Homo sapiens: one gene and its partners. The protein of the gene in region 3 interacts with the protein of the main gene of each other region in a biochemical or structural test. Each region holds a gene or a part of one and is shown on either strand. Other genes may lie near its edges.

Region 1 (2,685 bases), on a different chromosome or scaffold from region 3:
CACGTTCCACATCCTCCCACCCATTCTTTCTCTCAGGAACTAGTCCCGACAGATGCAGACATCCCTCTATCCCTGAGAGGGCTCTGGGCAGGGAACCCATAACCCTACCCTGCTTCCTGTCCCAAGAGGAGGCTACCTTCTATCACCCACAGACAGTGCCGGGTCCCCGCTCTGTGACTCAGGCAGCTGCGACTCCAGACAGCTCACTCATCTGCCTAGATCTCAGTCCTTCCACCCACATCCAGCCTGATGAGCTGTCCCACTCCTTCTGCTTCTCAACCCCCATGGTTCTTCCACCCTCAGGAACAGTCCTTTTCATGGGCCAAGTGATGGAACCCTGACCCTGGGGAAAGACGCCTTCATCTGGGACAAAACTGGAGATGCATCGGGAAAGAAGAAACTCCGAAGAAAAGAATTTTAGTGTTAATGACTCTTTCTGAAGGAAGAGAAGACATTTGCCTTTTGTTAAAAGATGGTAAACCAGATCTGTCTCCAAGACCTTGGCCTCTCCTTGGAGGACCTTTAGGTCAAACTCCCTAGTCTCCACCTGAGACCCTGGGAGAGAAGTTTGAAGCACAACTCCCTTAAGGTCTCCAAACCAGACGGTGACGCCTGCGGGACCATCTGGGGCACCTGCTTCCACCCGTCTCTCTGCCCACTCGGGTCTGCAGACCTGGTTCCCACTGAGGCCCTTTGCAGGATGGAACTACGGGGCTTACAGGAGCTTTTGTGTGCCTGGTAGAAACTATTTCTGTTCCAGTCACATTGCCATCACTCTTGTACTGCCTGCCACCGCGGAGGAGGCTGGTGACAGGCCAAAGGCCAGTGGAAGAAACACCCTTTCATCTCAGAGTCCACTGTGGCACTGGCCACCCCTCCCCAGTACAGGGGTGCTGCAGGTGGCAGAGTGAATGTCCCCCATCATGTGGCCCAACTCTCCTGGCCTGGCCATCTCCCTCCCCAGAAACAGTGTGCATGGGTTATTTTGGAGTGTAGGTGACTTGTTTACTCATTGAAGCAGATTTCTGCTTCCTTTTATTTTTATAGGAATAGAGGAAGAAATGTCAGATGCGTGCCCAGCTCTTCACCCCCCAATCTCTTGGTGGGGAGGGGTGTACCTAAATATTTATCATATCCTTGCCCTTGAGTGCTTGTTAGAGAGAAAGAGAACTACTAAGGAAAATAATATTATTTAAACTCGCTCCTAGTGTTTCTTTGTGGTCTGTGTCACCGTATCTCAGGAAGTCCAGCCACTTGACTGGCACACACCCCTCCGGACATCCAGCGTGACGGAGCCCACACTGCCACCTTGTGGCCGCCTGAGACCCTCGCGCCCCCCGCGCCCCTCTTTTTCCCCTTGATGGAAATTGACCATACAATTTCATCCTCCTTCAGGGGATCAAAAGGACGGAGTGGGGGGACAGAGACTCAGATGAGGACAGAGTGGTTTCCAATGTGTTCAATAGATTTAGGAGCAGAAATGCAAGGGGCTGCATGACCTACCAGGACAGAACTTTCCCCAATTACAGGGTGACTCACAGCCGCATTGGTGACTCACTTCAATGTGTCATTTCCGGCTGCTGTGTGTGAGCAGTGGACACGTGAGGGGGGGGTGGGTGAGAGAGACAGGCAGCTCGGATTCAACTACCTTAGATAATATTTCTGAAAACCTACCAGCCAGAGGGTAGGGCACAAAGATGGATGTAATGCACTTTGGGAGGCCAAGGCGGGAGGATTGCTTGAGCCCAGGAGTTCAAGACCAGCCTGGGCAACATACCAAGACCCCCGTCTCTTTAAAAATATATATATTTTAAATATACTTAAATATATATTTCTAATATCTTTAAATATATATATATATTTTAAAGACCAATTTATGGGAGAATTGCACACAGATGTGAAATGAATGTAATCTAATAGAAGCCTAATCAGCCCACCATGTTCTCCACTGAAAAATCCTCTTTCTTTGGGGTTTTTCTTTCTTTCTTTTTTGATTTTGCACTGGACGGTGACGTCAGCCATGTACAGGATCCACAGGGGTGGTGTCAAATGCTATTGAAATTGTGTTGAATTGTATGCTTTTTCACTTTTGATAAATAAACATGTAAAAATGTTTCAAAAAAATAATAAAATAAATAAATACGAAGAATATGTCAGGACAGTCACTGCCTTCACCTTCTCCATTTCACACCGGTGGTACAAGAAATCAGAAGCCTAGGCCAGGTGTGGTGGTTCATGCCTGTAATCCCAGCACTTTGGGAAGCCGAGGTGGGTGGATCACCTAAGGTCAGGAGTTTGAGACCAGCCTGGACAACATGGTGAAACCCCGTCTCTACTAAAAATACAAAAATTAGCCGGGCGTGGTGGCTGGCGCCTGTAATCCCAGCTACTCGGGAGGCTGAGGCAGGAGAATCACTTGAAGCCAGGAGGCAGAGGTTGCAGTGAGCTGAGATTGCATCACTGAACTCCAGGCTGGGTGGCAGAGCGAGACTCCCTCTCAAAAAACAACAACTACAAAGACAACAACAAACCCAGAATCAAAATCCTGTTGGTCCATAGACCTCATGGGTGGAAGAGACCTTCCTACATCCAGGTTGGCCCAACATGGGGGAGTCCATGAAATGGTCACCTCAGCTCTGCCACAAGCCCCAAGGATAAGTTGATTCTGCCCCTGGGAATCATCCT
Region 2 (7,041 bases), on a different chromosome or scaffold from region 3:
GATATGCCTCCTAAAATGACAGCAAGAAGAAGCTCTCTATGGGTCAAAAGCAATATTCTGTGAATAGCCCTTTGCTAGAGAAATAAAAGTTATTTTCACATGGTTCAGATTAGACAGTAATTACAGTAATGATAACGTATCCTCAGATTCATGGTAGGATACTGGTGAGTTTGCACTATCAGAATCACATAAGTTGTGGAGTTTATTCTTGAGAATAATAACCAGCAGTTTTCCCACCGAAATTTAAATTACCTTTCAAATAGAGGAAATCTTTAAGAGGCAGTCGAGTATAATAATTGAGAGCATGGGCTTCGGACATAGGTTATAGAGCCAGCTCTATCCCTTCCTATCTCTGTGACCCTACAAGTTGCAGAACTTTTTTAAAGCCTCAGTTTCTTTAAGTATTCAATACGGATACTAGTAAGACCTTCCGGCTGGGCACGATGGCTCACGCCTGTAATCCCAGCACTTTGGGAGGCCAAAGTGGGTGGATCACTTGAGGTCAGGAGTTTCAGACCAGCTTGGCCAACACAGCGAAACCCATTTCTACTAAAAACACAAAAATTAGCAGGGCATGGTGGCACACGCCTGTAGTCCCAGCTACTCGGGAGGCTGAGGCAGGAGAATTGCTTGAACCCAGGTGGTAGAGGTTCCAGTGAGCTGAGATGGTGCCACTGTACTCCAGCCCTGGCGACAGAGCGAGACTCCATCTCAAAAAAATAAATAAATAAAATAATAATAATAAGACCTTCCTTCCTAAGGTCAAAACAAAGAGTAAATATGAGAATAATGCTTGTAAAAACTGAGCAGATAAGCTGGTGGCTAGTAATACTAGACACTTGACAATTGCTATTGTTAAATGAATTCTACTCTAAGTGTTATGATCCTGCATTTTAACTTTGATCTAGATATATTTAGTTACACGAAAAATGCACTCAAATTAGATTCTCTTCAGTTCTCCCCTCTTAGTACCCTTCAGCTGGTACATGTATTTTAGAAATGGGTTACCACTTAGCATCCATGGAGCTTGTCTGAGTTTTGTTTTCAAGTTTAATGTGCTTTGTGTTCACTATGCATTCCCTTGCCGGCTGGGTATTTCCCTCTCTCTAAGCCATACACCTCTGAGTGAATGGTTTACTGCACTTTCTCACAGGCTGCAAGTGAGGGTGGAGAATTTGGAGGGGAGATAGAGATAGGAGAAGACATACTGGTTGTCTGTTGAGCAGTCAGAGGCTTGCTCTCCCTCCCATGGCTCACTGCAAAGACTTTGAAGTAATAGGTGACCCCAGGGGACAGCCCGGTGACTTCTGCAAAGGTGTTCCTGCTGATGGGCAGCCTCTGCCCGTGCTCGCCAGGCAGGTTGACGGGGATCACATCCACACGGTAGCCGGTCACTGCACTCTCAGGCGGTGTCCACATGATGGTGACCTTCACGTCTGTCACTTCCACAAACTGCAGGTCCCTGGGAGAGGGCACTGTATCTGACAGACAAGAGTCAACTGGTCATTCACATTCTCTGCTGAAGATTACTTTTAAGAAGCCAGTTTCTTGGATATGTTAGGCAGTTCATTGAGCCTCTCATTCGAGAGTTTTGCTAAGTTTTGTCTCTTAATCAGATCACATTTTCATGGTCCAGTCATAGTGCTTAAATTATGACATTTGAACCTTTTATCTAAAATAGGTAATAAGTGAGTTACCAGCATATGAAGTGTCATATGGTGGTGGGGGGAGAGGGTTATAAGAAAAGATACTAAAAAATTTTTTAGAAAAAGCCTTTGAAATAACTGCAGAAAATAATGTAACAGTTTTTGTTTTACTGAATCATTTTATAATACTTAAGAATCAAAAATGAAATGACCCTTAAGCTTCTAGGGGAAAATTTGTAGATGGACGTTATGGTGTCAGTTTTTAATCAGAAAGGCCAGTAGCCAGCTTTGATAAGTTACTTATGACATTTCAGCTAAATATCAGAAGTTTAGGGAAAAACTAATATATAAGATTTCTTGAATGAGAGGACTGTTGACAGAGACAAAACAACCCTCCTTCAGGAACAATCCTGATAAGATAACATAGGAAGTGTCTTCTTAAAAAAGTTACCTGAGCGTGGGGTGCCAGTGGTTTCTTGTTGAATGACAACAGGTGTACTTTCTTGATTTTCTTCCACAGCATAGATAGTGATGTTATACTGAACACCAGGTTGCAAGTCACTGAGGGTGACGGAGTTTGCAGTTTCAGGAAGGTTGAGTTCTGTGCTGCTACCTTCTACTGATGGCGAATAGACTATTCTGTACCCTGCAGATTCATGAGCAAAAGTAAGATGCACTGTTTTCTTTGAGACAGAGGCTTAGAAACACCATAAATCCTCCCTTTTCTAATATCCCTTAGCATCTTGCTTGATTAGTGAAGAGCCAGTGATACTTTTTGACTCTTTGAATATTGCCACTTCTTCTAATAATGACTATTCAGCACGAAGATAAAATAAGAACAGTCATGCGAACCTTTTTAATAATAAATGTCATCCTTGAAGACCTGACATCCTTAATAAATGTCAATTAGAGATGCCATTAGGTGAAAATATTCATGTTAAGCTGATTTTTCCTCTTTGAGCTCCAGACGAGGGAAGCAATTAATGAACCAGCCTAAGCAGAGTTGTCTAGCACTGTGTGTGTCTTTTTGGAACTTCAGTGATGAGGCAGTTGAATCACCTAATGAGCTAAGACGACAGCTCAGCTTTCTCCTTAAGGATAAATCTTAGAGCAACGTTTTCAGGAAATTACACCTCTTCAACCCTGGGAACACTTGCTTTAATAAGCCAATGAGCTGGCTTTACAGGTTGTGTGTATGTTGTGGTGTGTGTGTATAAGGGAGTTGGTGAAATGGTTTCAAGGGGAAATGTGCCATAGAAAATAACTCCCCCACCCCCGCCACACACACACACACACACACACACAAACCCCTCTCCCATAAATTATATTGGAGATTTAAAGTGATATGCAGGTCCGCAGTCAGAATCTGCGCCCTCCCTGCTGATGTCATTAAGATTAACATAGCAGCCAAAGAGGGGGACGCTTAGCTGACCTGTGATGGGAGCCTGGGGTCTGCTCCAGCGAACAACAATTGAGGTGTCATCAACTTGGTCCACAGTCGTGTCAGGAGGGGCATCAGGCGCTAAGAAAGAAAGAAAGTGGGGCAAACAGTCAGGAAGTGCTACTACAGGCCTGTGTTTTACAGAAAAAGATTCTTTTAACACTATGTAGCACACATGTACCTGTTGTTTGTGAAGTAGACAGGATCAAACTCTGCTCCCCATCCTCAGATATCTGATAGACATTTACAATGTATTTTCGGCCAGGAAGCAGGTCAGGGATGTTCACAGAAGTGGCTGTGCTTGGAAGATCTTTGAAATGAAAAGAAAAGGTAACTAATCAGAGCAAACTAGTCCCTCAAATGACTCTACAGCTTATAAGAAGGATATTTTAAGAATTATATATTCATAGGGAAAAGCGACTAGAAGGTAATGTGCTAATAGCTAATCAGTGATTATTATTATTATTTTTACACAGAGTCTTGCTGTGTTGCCCAGGCTGGAGTGCAGTGGCACAATTTCAGCTCACTGCATCCTCTACCTTTCCGGTTCAAGCAATTCTTCTGCCTCGGCCTCCCGAGTAGCTGGGATTACAGGTGCACACCACCACACCCGGCTATTTTTTTTGCATTTTTATTAGAGATGGAGGTTCACCATGTTGGCCAGGCTGATCTCGAACTCCTGGCCTCAAGTGATCCACCAGCCTCAGCTTCCCGAAGTGCTGAGATTATAGGAGTTAGCCACCGCACCCACCTAATCTGTGATTATTAATGTACTATGGGAAAACACCACTTCTTGTCTTTCTCCTTTCTCCTCCTCCTCCTTCTTCCTTTCATTTTTCCAACTTTTTTTCTAAAGACGTATAATTTTTGTAATCGAATGCCAAATTTTTAAAAATAGCTCTCTGCAGTAAGAGTCAGGGTAGTGATTATTGGCGGAAGATGATGGGGTGAGGGTAGAGAGATATTCTTTTCCTTGATCTGGGTGCTGGTCTTGTGGTGTGTTCACTTTATAAGAATTCAAATTCACTGAACTCAGTGCTTACGATGGCACACACTTCAGTGCGCCAATGAAGTTTTTTAAAGGCCCCTCACCATAACAATTTGAAAAGTATGAGTGACCGTACTGTGCTCACATTGTCAGCTGCAGTCCTGGTAATTACTTCCACCAAGAACACAGCTTTTGCTGTAGGAACTTGTGCACAGGTAGGCGCATGATGCAGCTGGCATCAGGGACCAGGAACATGTGACAGTGGCTTGGGAAAAACCCGGCCACTTCTTAGAAAGAGTCAGTCCTTCCCTTCCTCATGCCAGAGGGTGGTTTGTTCAGTCTGAGCTGTCAACCAGTTCCAAACCACAGATACCACCTGCCTAGAGGCCACCCACCCCCACAAGGAGAGTTTTCCAGCAGCTGCCCTGAACCTGTCTTGAGCGACATATTGAGCTTACCCAGGTACTGTGGCTCATCTCCCTCCTCACTCAGCTCATATTCCACCCGGAATCCCGACACGGTGTCGGAAGCTGAGACCCAGGAGACCACAAAGCTACTGGCTGTGATTTCGGTCACAGATTCAGAAGTGGCCACAAGAGGAGAAAAGGGAGTCGTCTCTCCTGTCACGGTGTTGCCTAGAGAGTCACAGAAAGGGGAAAGTCAGCCTTCAGTCATCTAGAAAATTTACCGTCCTCGTCGCCAACATCATTTTAAAAAACGTTGGTGCCCCTCCTGGAAGAATATGAATTGAGAAGGAAAGCATTGCCTCAGGAGAGCCTAGCTCTAGGAACCTCGGGGGTAGGAGGCATGAGGGTGGTTGTGTACATACTGGTCACAGGTGTGCTGGTGCTGGTGGTGGTGAAGTCAAAGCGAGTCACTTCTTGGTGGCCGTACTGCTGGATGCTGATGAGCTGGCCCTCGTATACCACACCAGGCTTCAGGCCTTTGATGGTGTAGGAGTTTAAGTGGCCTGGTATGGTAGCTTCCTTCCAACGGCCTACAGAATTTTTCTGAAAATTTAAATTAACACACACACACACACACACACGTGTTTACAAGGATGAACATTTGAAGATGATGTTCAGTAATCTTCAAAGAAAAATGACTTAAGCAGGACTTAGGCAGCTCCATTCTAGAGGAAAATCATGGAAAACTGGATTCCCAATGGTTATATCGTTAGATATAGTTAGATATAATGCTAACTATTGTTAACATCAACAAACTGCTGCAGTTTACTTACTGATACCCATACTCTGTGCTGTTTACCTACATTCTCCCATTTAGTCTCCATATCCTTCTGATGATAAGGCAATGGCATTGTTGCTCCCGTTTTACAGACGGAAAAACAGAGTGATATGTGATATGCCCGGGGTGACATAGTTGCAGACACTGGGCACCTTCACTTTTTTTTTTTTTTTTTGAGACAGAGTTTTGCTCTTGTTGCCCAGGCTAGAGTGCAGTGGCTCAATCTCAGCTCACTGCAAACTCCACCTCCCAGGTTTAAGCGCTTCTCCTGCCTCAGCCTCCCGAGTAGCTGGGATTAGAGGCGTGTGCCACCATGCCTGGCTAATTTTATATTTTTAGTAGAGATGGGGTTTCTCCATGTTGGTCAGGCTGGTCTCGAACTCCCGACCTCAGGTGATCCACCCGCCTCGGACTCCCAAAGTGCTGGGATTACAAGCGTGAGCCACCACGCCCACCCACACCTTCACTTTTACCAAGTTAATTGTGTTATATCAGTAACATAATATGATGAACCTAAGCTTTGCCTCTCTCACTTATTTTTTATTCCTACCACAAACAGATATATTCCTCTCTGAAGTACAGAAATGCCAATGCCATATATTTTATCTTTTAACTCAGTGGGATACAATTCAAGTTTCTTGTCCTGAAAAAACAAAGGCAGAATGTTGCTTTGTGACTCATCATATACCAGGTTCAACGAGTCTGGTTTTGTGACTCATTCTTGGATATGAGCTACCCCATCAGAAGTGGTTACCCAATTTTGGACAAGACTACAGAAAAAATGCAATTTTGGTTTATTTAATCTTTTGCTTCCAGTTTATATTTCACATCCTGTTCAGCTTCATTAATATGCCATGGGTCACAAAACTCAGTGCAATAAAATGTGTATGAAAGAAACACCCTTCAGAAAAGATGAGACTCTTTCAAGTGTAAATACTCTAAACTAATATAAGTCAAAATATATTTTTTGTGCCCAGTGATTTTTAAAAATTACCCAGTCAACCATTTCCTCAATAATTCAAATACTCAAGTGTCCATTTATATTTTTGGAATAAGCGAGAGTGATCGTAGTACTCTTCACAGTGAAATTTTAACTCAAATACACTGTGGAAAATTTTGAAACCAGTCATTGCAATTAGCTCAAATTTAGTAATCATTTTTCAACATGAGCTTGTTTGGTTAGTTATTACAAGAAAATAACAGAAAATAAAGTCTCAGGTGGCATCCATTAGAAAAAACCCTGAATTTTTGTAATTGTTAAAAATCTCAAAAAATTCATCACTGCTGCTTTTTGAAGACTTTCCAATTCAATGTACTTTTTTTTTTTTTTTTTTGAGATGGAGTTTCGCTCTTGTTGCCCAGGCTGGAGTGCAGTGGCGTGATCCTGGCTCACTGCAACCTCCGCCTTCTGGTTTCAAGCGATTCTCCTGCCTCAGCTTCCCGAGTAGCTGGGATTACAGGTATGCGCCACCATGCCCAGCTAATTTTTTTGTATTTTTAATAGAGACGGGGTTTCACCATGTTGGCCAGGATGCTCTCGATCTCTTGACCTCGTGATCCGCCCACCTTGGCCTCCCAAAGTGCTGGGATTACAGGCGTGAGCCACTGCGCCTGGCCCAAAGTACATTTTATACCACTTTTAAGTCTCCCATTGCAATGGTCTCACATAATACTTTGGATATCCTTAATTTTAAAGTAAATAAAATTAATGATGTAATAAG
Region 3 (7,041 bases):
CAGGCTTGGAATAGAGCTACCAAAGCTCAGCCAGATGTCTGGAAGAGCCTCAGGACAAGGGGACACCCTGTAGCCTTGTGGTGGGAGCACAGCTGAGGCCCCCTTGGCCACCCTCTGCCACGACCAGGCAGAAAGCAGCTTTCGGACAGATTCGTTGTCTCAGATTTGATCTCAAAGAAAAACCAAGACCAGTATTTGTCCCAGGTCCTGCTTTTTTACAATTTCCTCCGAAATCCAGATACCTGTCAACACCTTGGAAAAACTGACTTCTCCCCAATTAGTAGTGTTGTGTGACTGTCATAAGCCCAGTACAAAAATGGCCTTCTTTGTTGGGGAGCTTCTTACCCTCCAGTGTTTTGCCCAATTTTTGTCCAAGGTGGCAACATAATTTAGTTCAGTTCTTGTTTATTTCCACCATCATCTATGCACCAAAATTTATGTTTCTCAAGGAGGGACCATTCAGAGGATGCTTCCCACCGGTTCAAGTGACAGTGCCAGAACCAAAGCGCATATTGTAGGAAATCAAACAATGGCCTCCAAGTTCCATTTCTACCCAGGGATGAACAAATCAACATCAATCTTGGTAACACAACTGCCACTGATGGTGCCTTACTCTTCTCTCATGACATGGCACAATCAATAGCAAACATAAAATTTGTTCTTGTTTAAGGATTTATATCCACTAATATGGTAACATAGTAGTGGTTCCATAGTTCTAACCTGTTTGTCAATCCAGTTAATCTTTTACTATCTTGCAATCTGCTAATGAAACTGTTTTTCTTTGTTTTATAATTTCAACTTTTAGAGTCAGGGGTACATGTGCAGGTGTGTTACATAACTAAATTGCGTGACACTGAGCTTTGGGGTACAAATGATCCCATCACCCAGGTAGTGAGCTAAATACCTACTAAATAGGTAGTTTTTCAGCCCTTGCCTTGCTCCCTCTCTCCCTTCTCTGGTAGTCCCCAGTGTCTTTAGTTGCCATCTTTATTTATGTCCAAATGCCCGACTGTGTGTTCTTAACTAAACATTTTGATTCATAGCTACCCATTCTACTTCCAGTAAACAGAAAGTTTTATTTGGTTAATGCTAACCAAATAGATTAAAAGGAAGTCATGACAATTAGACATTGACATTGATTTACTGACCATTTATTCCACTTGGATCTCCCACCTCTAGGTCAAGGAGAGCCTCTGGATGACTATGTGAATACCCAGGGGGCTTCACTGTTCAGTGTCACTAAGAAGCAGCTGGGAGCAGGAAGTATAGAAGAATGTGCAGCAAAATGTGAGGAGGACGAAGAATTCACCTGCAGGTATTTCCATTGTCGTTGCACCTACGCAGGAATCTGTAATTCAGATGGCAAGTAATTTACTCACAAATTTATTAATGATTTAAGAGGAAAGAGAAATTTATGGAGCCAGAGTTTGGAACTATATTTGCTCACAGTATGTGAAGCCATACTAACAGCTTCTTGTTAAGGTTTATTGGAGTCTTTGTTAGAAAAATACCCTCAAAGGAAGTTATTTGTTTTTACACCGGACACAAACATTAGCAGTTATTGTTCTGAGCTCCAGTTTTCAACATCATCATCAGTAAATGTTTGTTGAGGATCAGGTGAATGAAAGTGTCCTAGATAGATCTGAGCAATGACTTATAGCTACAAGATCCAGTGCCTGCCCTTTAGTATTTAAGGTGTAGTCAAAGAAACTGGATATAATGTTAAAAAAAAAAAAAAGACAGCCCAAGTGAGGTACAGGCATAATCAATGCATGCTCTACCCAGATCCAGAAGAAAGAACAGTGCCTAAGGTTGAGGCAGCTAGAGAAGGCTCAGGGAGGAGGTGGGAACTGAGCTGGGTTTGGAGTTGAGAGAGCTCTTGACAAGCACCAGGAAGGCAGGGGAAGATGCGGCCCTGCACCTTCTGAGGGGGACCATTAAGAGATGAAGTTGACTAAAGCAGAGACTTTGTGTAGGTGACGGGCTTGGGAAGGTAGCTATGGAATCCAGACTGAGCACCCATAGCAGGACCACGGGATGGAGATGGGAGGGGTCAGGGGCCAGGGTGGGGTGGAATGTGGAGCAGAGGTTCAGGGGAACTGATCAGAGTTGGGAGGTCATGGAGACGGACTATCTTGGCGAATGGGTTCAAAGCAACCAGAGTTGCTTCTTTCCAACCCAAAAACAAAAATTAAGAAGATGAGTGAAGAAGAAGTAAAGCAGTTGAAACAGGAAGAAAGGGAAAATTATGAGGGAGGGAAGGTAAGGGCAGATAAGATTTGCTGCCACGTTGGTGTATTTTGTTCAGTACTTCATCGATGCCATGCCCAAATAACTGAAAGAGGCAGCAATTCTGAGCTCTCTGGTCCCTCAAGATATTCAATGATCTTTAGCATGTCTCACTTATTAATAAACATTTGTTTTCTTTAAATAAAGAAAAATACTTATTGGATTTCCTGCTTCGTTCTGCAGGGCATTCCAATATCACAGTAAAGAGCAACAATGTGTGATAATGGCTGAAAACAGGAAGTCCTCCATAATCATTAGGATGAGAGATGTAGTTTTATTTGAAAAGAAAGGTGAGTACATTTTCTTCCTCCTCCTCCTACTGTCCTCCCCATCCTCCCACTCTTCCTCTTTCTCTATTCTATCTTTAATTTATAAGACCAGAGGAGGAAGGCACTATCGTGTTATAAAACTGAATTCTGAGTTAGGACAGGATTTGATTACTAACTAACCATGTCAGCTTGAGTGTATTACTTCACCTCTTAGATTTAATTTTTTTTGTTCAAAAGATGAAAGGATTAGATTTACAAAATCACTTCTACCTCTATGACCCTGAAAATAAGATTTTTAAAATATTATTTTATATTTAACAAGGAGATGGGAAGTCTAAGCATTCCTTTTGGTCTTGGCTTCTTATTCTGCAGGGTGACCATGGTCCTTGGGCCCTAACATCTGGATGAAGCCTTGTAAAACAGAAATACTGAGGTGTTTTAATCCTCAGAAACATTTAGATTGGGACACAAATCTTATTTTTACTCTTAAATTTTTCACATTTTGGGGGACATGGTCTATATTTTTCTCAGATTTCTGAAATGTTGTCTTTTAAAAATGTGTAAAAGTTACAGTTCCTTTTCTATAGTTTATTTTAAAATGTGGGTCAATAGTCCCACTGCTTAGAATAAGAGGCAGACAGGATTTCAATAGAAATTGCATGCCTTTTTAGATGTGCAAATGTTTCATTAAGCATTTCCCATCAAGTATATCCCATCAAGTATGCTCCCATTAAGCATATCCCATCAAGTATAAATATTTGAAGGGATGCATGACACTTTAAAAACTGTTTCCTCTACTGTGTTGGTAGCCAGGTATTAAGACTGTTAATAGTAACAATTTAGCTCTCCAAACATTCTGCATCCCAGGTGTTAAAGAGGACTGGAAACACCTTAGTTCTTGTATTCTTGAGGATGATTTGCCATATTGTGTCTAGTATTACGGCAAAACTCTAAGTAGCATTTTAAATAGTATTTATTTGGGTTGGAATTATTTCTATGCATTGACTCATCTTCCTGGGTTTCATTAGCTGTACGCATTGTACTTCCTTCCTTACCACTATTTATCTCGAATTCTTGAGATTAAAGTGCAGATTAAATCTAAACTTTATCTGGTGAAGTTATTAGTTCTTACAAGTAGCAAGCAAACGGTAAACTAAATAGGATCACCTAATTGTACCAGATTTTAAAAAAAAAAAACCCTGATTCTCCTGATTCTCTCTACAAAATGCTAACATTTAAATATGTCATTTGTAAATTGTTAACCAGAAGGAACATGGGAATGACTGTAGGTTGAGTTTGAAGTCTGAAGTTTGAAGGCTTAGTTTGCTTGTTTTCAAAGTGACAGAAGGGAGCAAAAGGTTATATAAACTCTGATGGGTACATACAAAAAAAAAAGAAGTGAAAAGTCAAAAGTCAGTCATTTTTTGGTCCTTGTTTCTTTGCTGTGGGATATTGACCTGCTACTAACTTACCTGCCAGGGTTTTGCCAGGAACAGTCAGTGTTAGATCACATTTACTTCTGCCACTTGCCACCAGCCACACTGCCTTCACCAAGTCCAAGACCCTATCACCACTGGTTGGGGCTACTTGTAGCTGTACACATGATCTCTAAGAAATGTAACTTCCCTGTTTAAAGCCCTTCCTAGTGCCCTTAAAATAAGACCCAAAGACTTCCCAAATGTGCTAGGGCCCAGCATTATTTAAGTAACCCCCAGCTGCTGTTTGCTTGGCTTGCTAAACTTTTCTACACTGGCCTTACTTCTGTTCCTTCACCACCCCAAGCACACACCCTCCTGCCTGGGACCCTCTTCACCTTTGTCCTGCTGTGCCAGCTCCTTCTTATCTCCTAGGTGTCAGCTCAATCATCATGTCCTTTGCAAATCTTCCTTGACCCCTAGACCTCCCTTTCACAAAGTACCTTGAGTTTACACTTTTGATGAGTGTCTTATGTCTACTGTAATACTATGTCCCAATGAAGATGTACTTGCAATCATAATACGCAGTATTGGGTTAAAAGCATTAGTTTGCTGTAGGTATGTTAGGAGCACTTTCCCCATGTGATTGATCAATTAATTAAAAAATGGCTAAAGTGGGTAACCTTAAATGATGGTGTAAATATACCTTAAACATTTTATATTTTCATTGAAAACACAAGTGTACTTGACACCTTTTGACGTAGAGCAGAGGCTTTTCTTCTTCGAATATGGGGTCACCAGTAGAAGGTCTCTGGTGTATTTCCTGCATAAACTATGCTCCAGTGCAACATCTACAATAATTACTTTCCTTATTTTTGAAGTGGACCATATCTCGACATTTATTAATCAATCTGAATGTGTAAAACCTTTAGATTTTTATGAATTCCTCCTCAAGCTTTATAGTCAACTATATGAGTGGATTGCCCTCTGTGGATTTGATAGCAATTTTTTAAATGATTCATGTTTCAACTTGTTAAAAACATTTAATTTAGTTAAAAACCAAACAAAAAAGAGCTTTGTTTCTTTTCACATTCATTTCTCAGTTTAGATCATCTTTAATTAAATATAAATGTAAGAAAGTTGGAAAATGCAAAGAAATGACTCGTTGTAAGCACATAACTCACGTGGGGGGAACAGACATGGGTGGGCACACTAGCAAACACCTGCCAGCTGCATGTGGACCCAGGTGGGCACCGGACTGTTTTAAACACAGGAGAGGGCCCGTTGTCTAACTGGTGAGTTGGTTGAGTGGAAGCTGGTTGAGAACTTTTACTGCAAACCATTTACAGTAGACCACAATTTTATAGCCCTGTTTGGCACTTTTTCATATCACTGGGAGCCTGAAGAAATAGAAGTGGGTTGGATCTCTTTCAGCCTCTGAAAAGCCTGCCATTCCCCCATCTAAAAAGCCCTTTCCCCATTCTCTCACTCTGTCTCATCATGTATGTAATATGTATCATCATTAAGTGATCTCATTTTATATTGTTTCCTTGAATATTTCCTGTAACCCCCCTGCCTGATTCCACTAGAATGTAAGCTCCATGACGGCCAAGCCTCTGGCTGCACTGTGCCCCGTGTGTCCCCAGCATCCTGGTGGGGCTCGATACACAGAGAGCTCATAAGTAGCATTTGAATACATGAATCAAAGAATGGCTCAGTTTACTGCAGCCTTTTTGCAGATGCAAAAGATGATCTTTTAGAAAGCAGAAACAGGGGGTCTGGTGCATGAGATCTTTTTCTCAACGTGACTATGCTGTGCAGACCTTCATGTGGTGTCTTGTGAAAGACTTTGACCACTGTGTGGACTTCCCTTCAGTGTATCTCTCAGAGTGCAAGACTGGGAATGGAAAGAACTACAGAGGGACGATGTCCAAAACAAAAAATGGCATCACCTGTCAAAAATGGAGTTCCACTTCTCCCCACAGACCTAGGTAAGACATTCCCTTTCATCTTTGTGTTCATCTACTGTAAAGTTGTCCCTCTGTGTCTGTGAGGGATTGGTTCCAGGACCCCTGTGGCTACCAAAATCCATGCTTCTCAAGTCCCTTATATAAAATGGTGCAGTATTTGCATATAACCTACATACCTTCTCTTGTATAATCCCTAATATAATGTAAATGCTATTTAATCGTTGTTATACTGTATTGTTTTTATTTGTATTATGTTTTATTGTCATATTGTTATTTTCTGTCATCTTTTTCAAGTCTTTTCCATCCACAGTTGGTTGAATTTGTGGATCTGGAACCCATGGATACAGAGGGCCAACTGTATTTAGGATAATTTCATCACTTTTAATTCAAACCACAATATGTGAATAAGCAGATAGAAAGAATCTTTTTGATGTCGATGTTCAACTATTTTTGGCACCATAGTAGAACATGGTTGCTTTCTATTTTTTCTTGGATATGGAGGTTTCTTGAAGACCTAGAACATAGAAGAATGCCTAGTTTAAAAAAAATCAATGAAACTATGAGTTTTAGGCCAAATCTGAGAAAAGATCAAAGATGACTATGTTTGGGACTGAAGTAAGCATATCAGGTTAGAACTCTCATCACATGTTCGACTCAAATTGTGGAGCAAAAGAGTAAATAAGATATAAAAATGAAAATGAAGATACGTGAAATTCAAATGTTGCAACTTGCCTATTATTTATTTTAGTGCATTTTTTTGTACTTTTCCCAGTTTGGTGTTAGGTGGCATTAAGTTCTCAGTAATGACGCTTATCAAATAGGAACTTAGTGCTTGTTACTCACCTTTATCCATTCCCCCAACACTCAACAAATTGCCTTTGCTATATCCCTATGAGATGAGCAGATCAAATATTCCCCGTGAGTTAATGAAAACTGATTCAACCAAATGGCAAAGTCAGAGACTATCGGGGGCCATGGAGACACTCTGGGCCATTTTTATGAGGTAGTCTAGGCTCATCTTTATGAGGGAACTGAGGTCTCGGGGGGTGGGGGTTATCCCAAATAGGTTCACAGAAGAACCAGAAATAAAACCTGCCT

What was found. The genes of interacting proteins can lie anywhere in the genome.
Region 1: the proteins of PLG (region 3) and SERPINE1 form a complex in vitro, tested with the Homo sapiens proteins (one study listed by BioGRID).
Region 2: the proteins of PLG (region 3) and FN1 form a complex in vitro, tested with the Homo sapiens proteins (one study listed by BioGRID).

What each region holds. Positions count from the first base shown.
Region 1 is NC_000007.14:101,137,102-101,139,786, forward strand, and holds the end of SERPINE1 (plasminogen activator inhibitor 1 isoform 2 precursor), read left to right. Parts: intron 1-152; coding exon of another isoform or gene 153-250; exon of another isoform or gene 251-303; coding exon 304-341; 3' UTR 342-688; coding exon of another isoform or gene 689-996; 3' UTR 997-2,146; downstream 2,147-2,685. UniProt on the Homo sapiens protein: Serine protease inhibitor. Inhibits TMPRSS7. Is a primary inhibitor of tissue-type plasminogen activator (PLAT) and urokinase-type plasminogen activator (PLAU).
Region 2 is NC_000002.12:215,405,030-215,412,070, forward strand, and holds part of FN1 (fibronectin isoform 1 precursor), read right to left. Parts: intron 5,086-7,041; coding exon 4,905-5,085; intron 4,711-4,904; coding exon 4,534-4,710; intron 3,398-4,533; coding exon 3,269-3,397; intron 3,169-3,268; coding exon 3,079-3,168; intron 2,293-3,078; coding exon 2,098-2,292; intron 1,482-2,097; coding exon 1,209-1,481; intron 1-1,208. UniProt on the Homo sapiens protein: Fibronectins bind cell surfaces and various compounds including collagen, fibrin, heparin, DNA, and actin. Fibronectins are involved in cell adhesion, cell motility, opsonization, wound healing, and maintenance of cell shape.
Region 3 is NC_000006.12:160,705,228-160,712,268, forward strand, and holds part of PLG (plasminogen isoform 1 precursor), read left to right. Parts: intron 1-1,179; coding exon 1,180-1,315; intron 1,316-2,472; coding exon 2,473-2,579; intron 2,580-5,849; coding exon 5,850-5,964; coding exon of another isoform or gene 5,965-5,968; exon of another isoform or gene 5,969-6,645; intron 6,646-7,041. UniProt on the Homo sapiens protein: Plasmin dissolves the fibrin of blood clots and acts as a proteolytic factor in a variety of other processes including embryonic development, tissue remodeling, tumor invasion, and inflammation. In ovulation, weakens the walls of the Graafian follicle.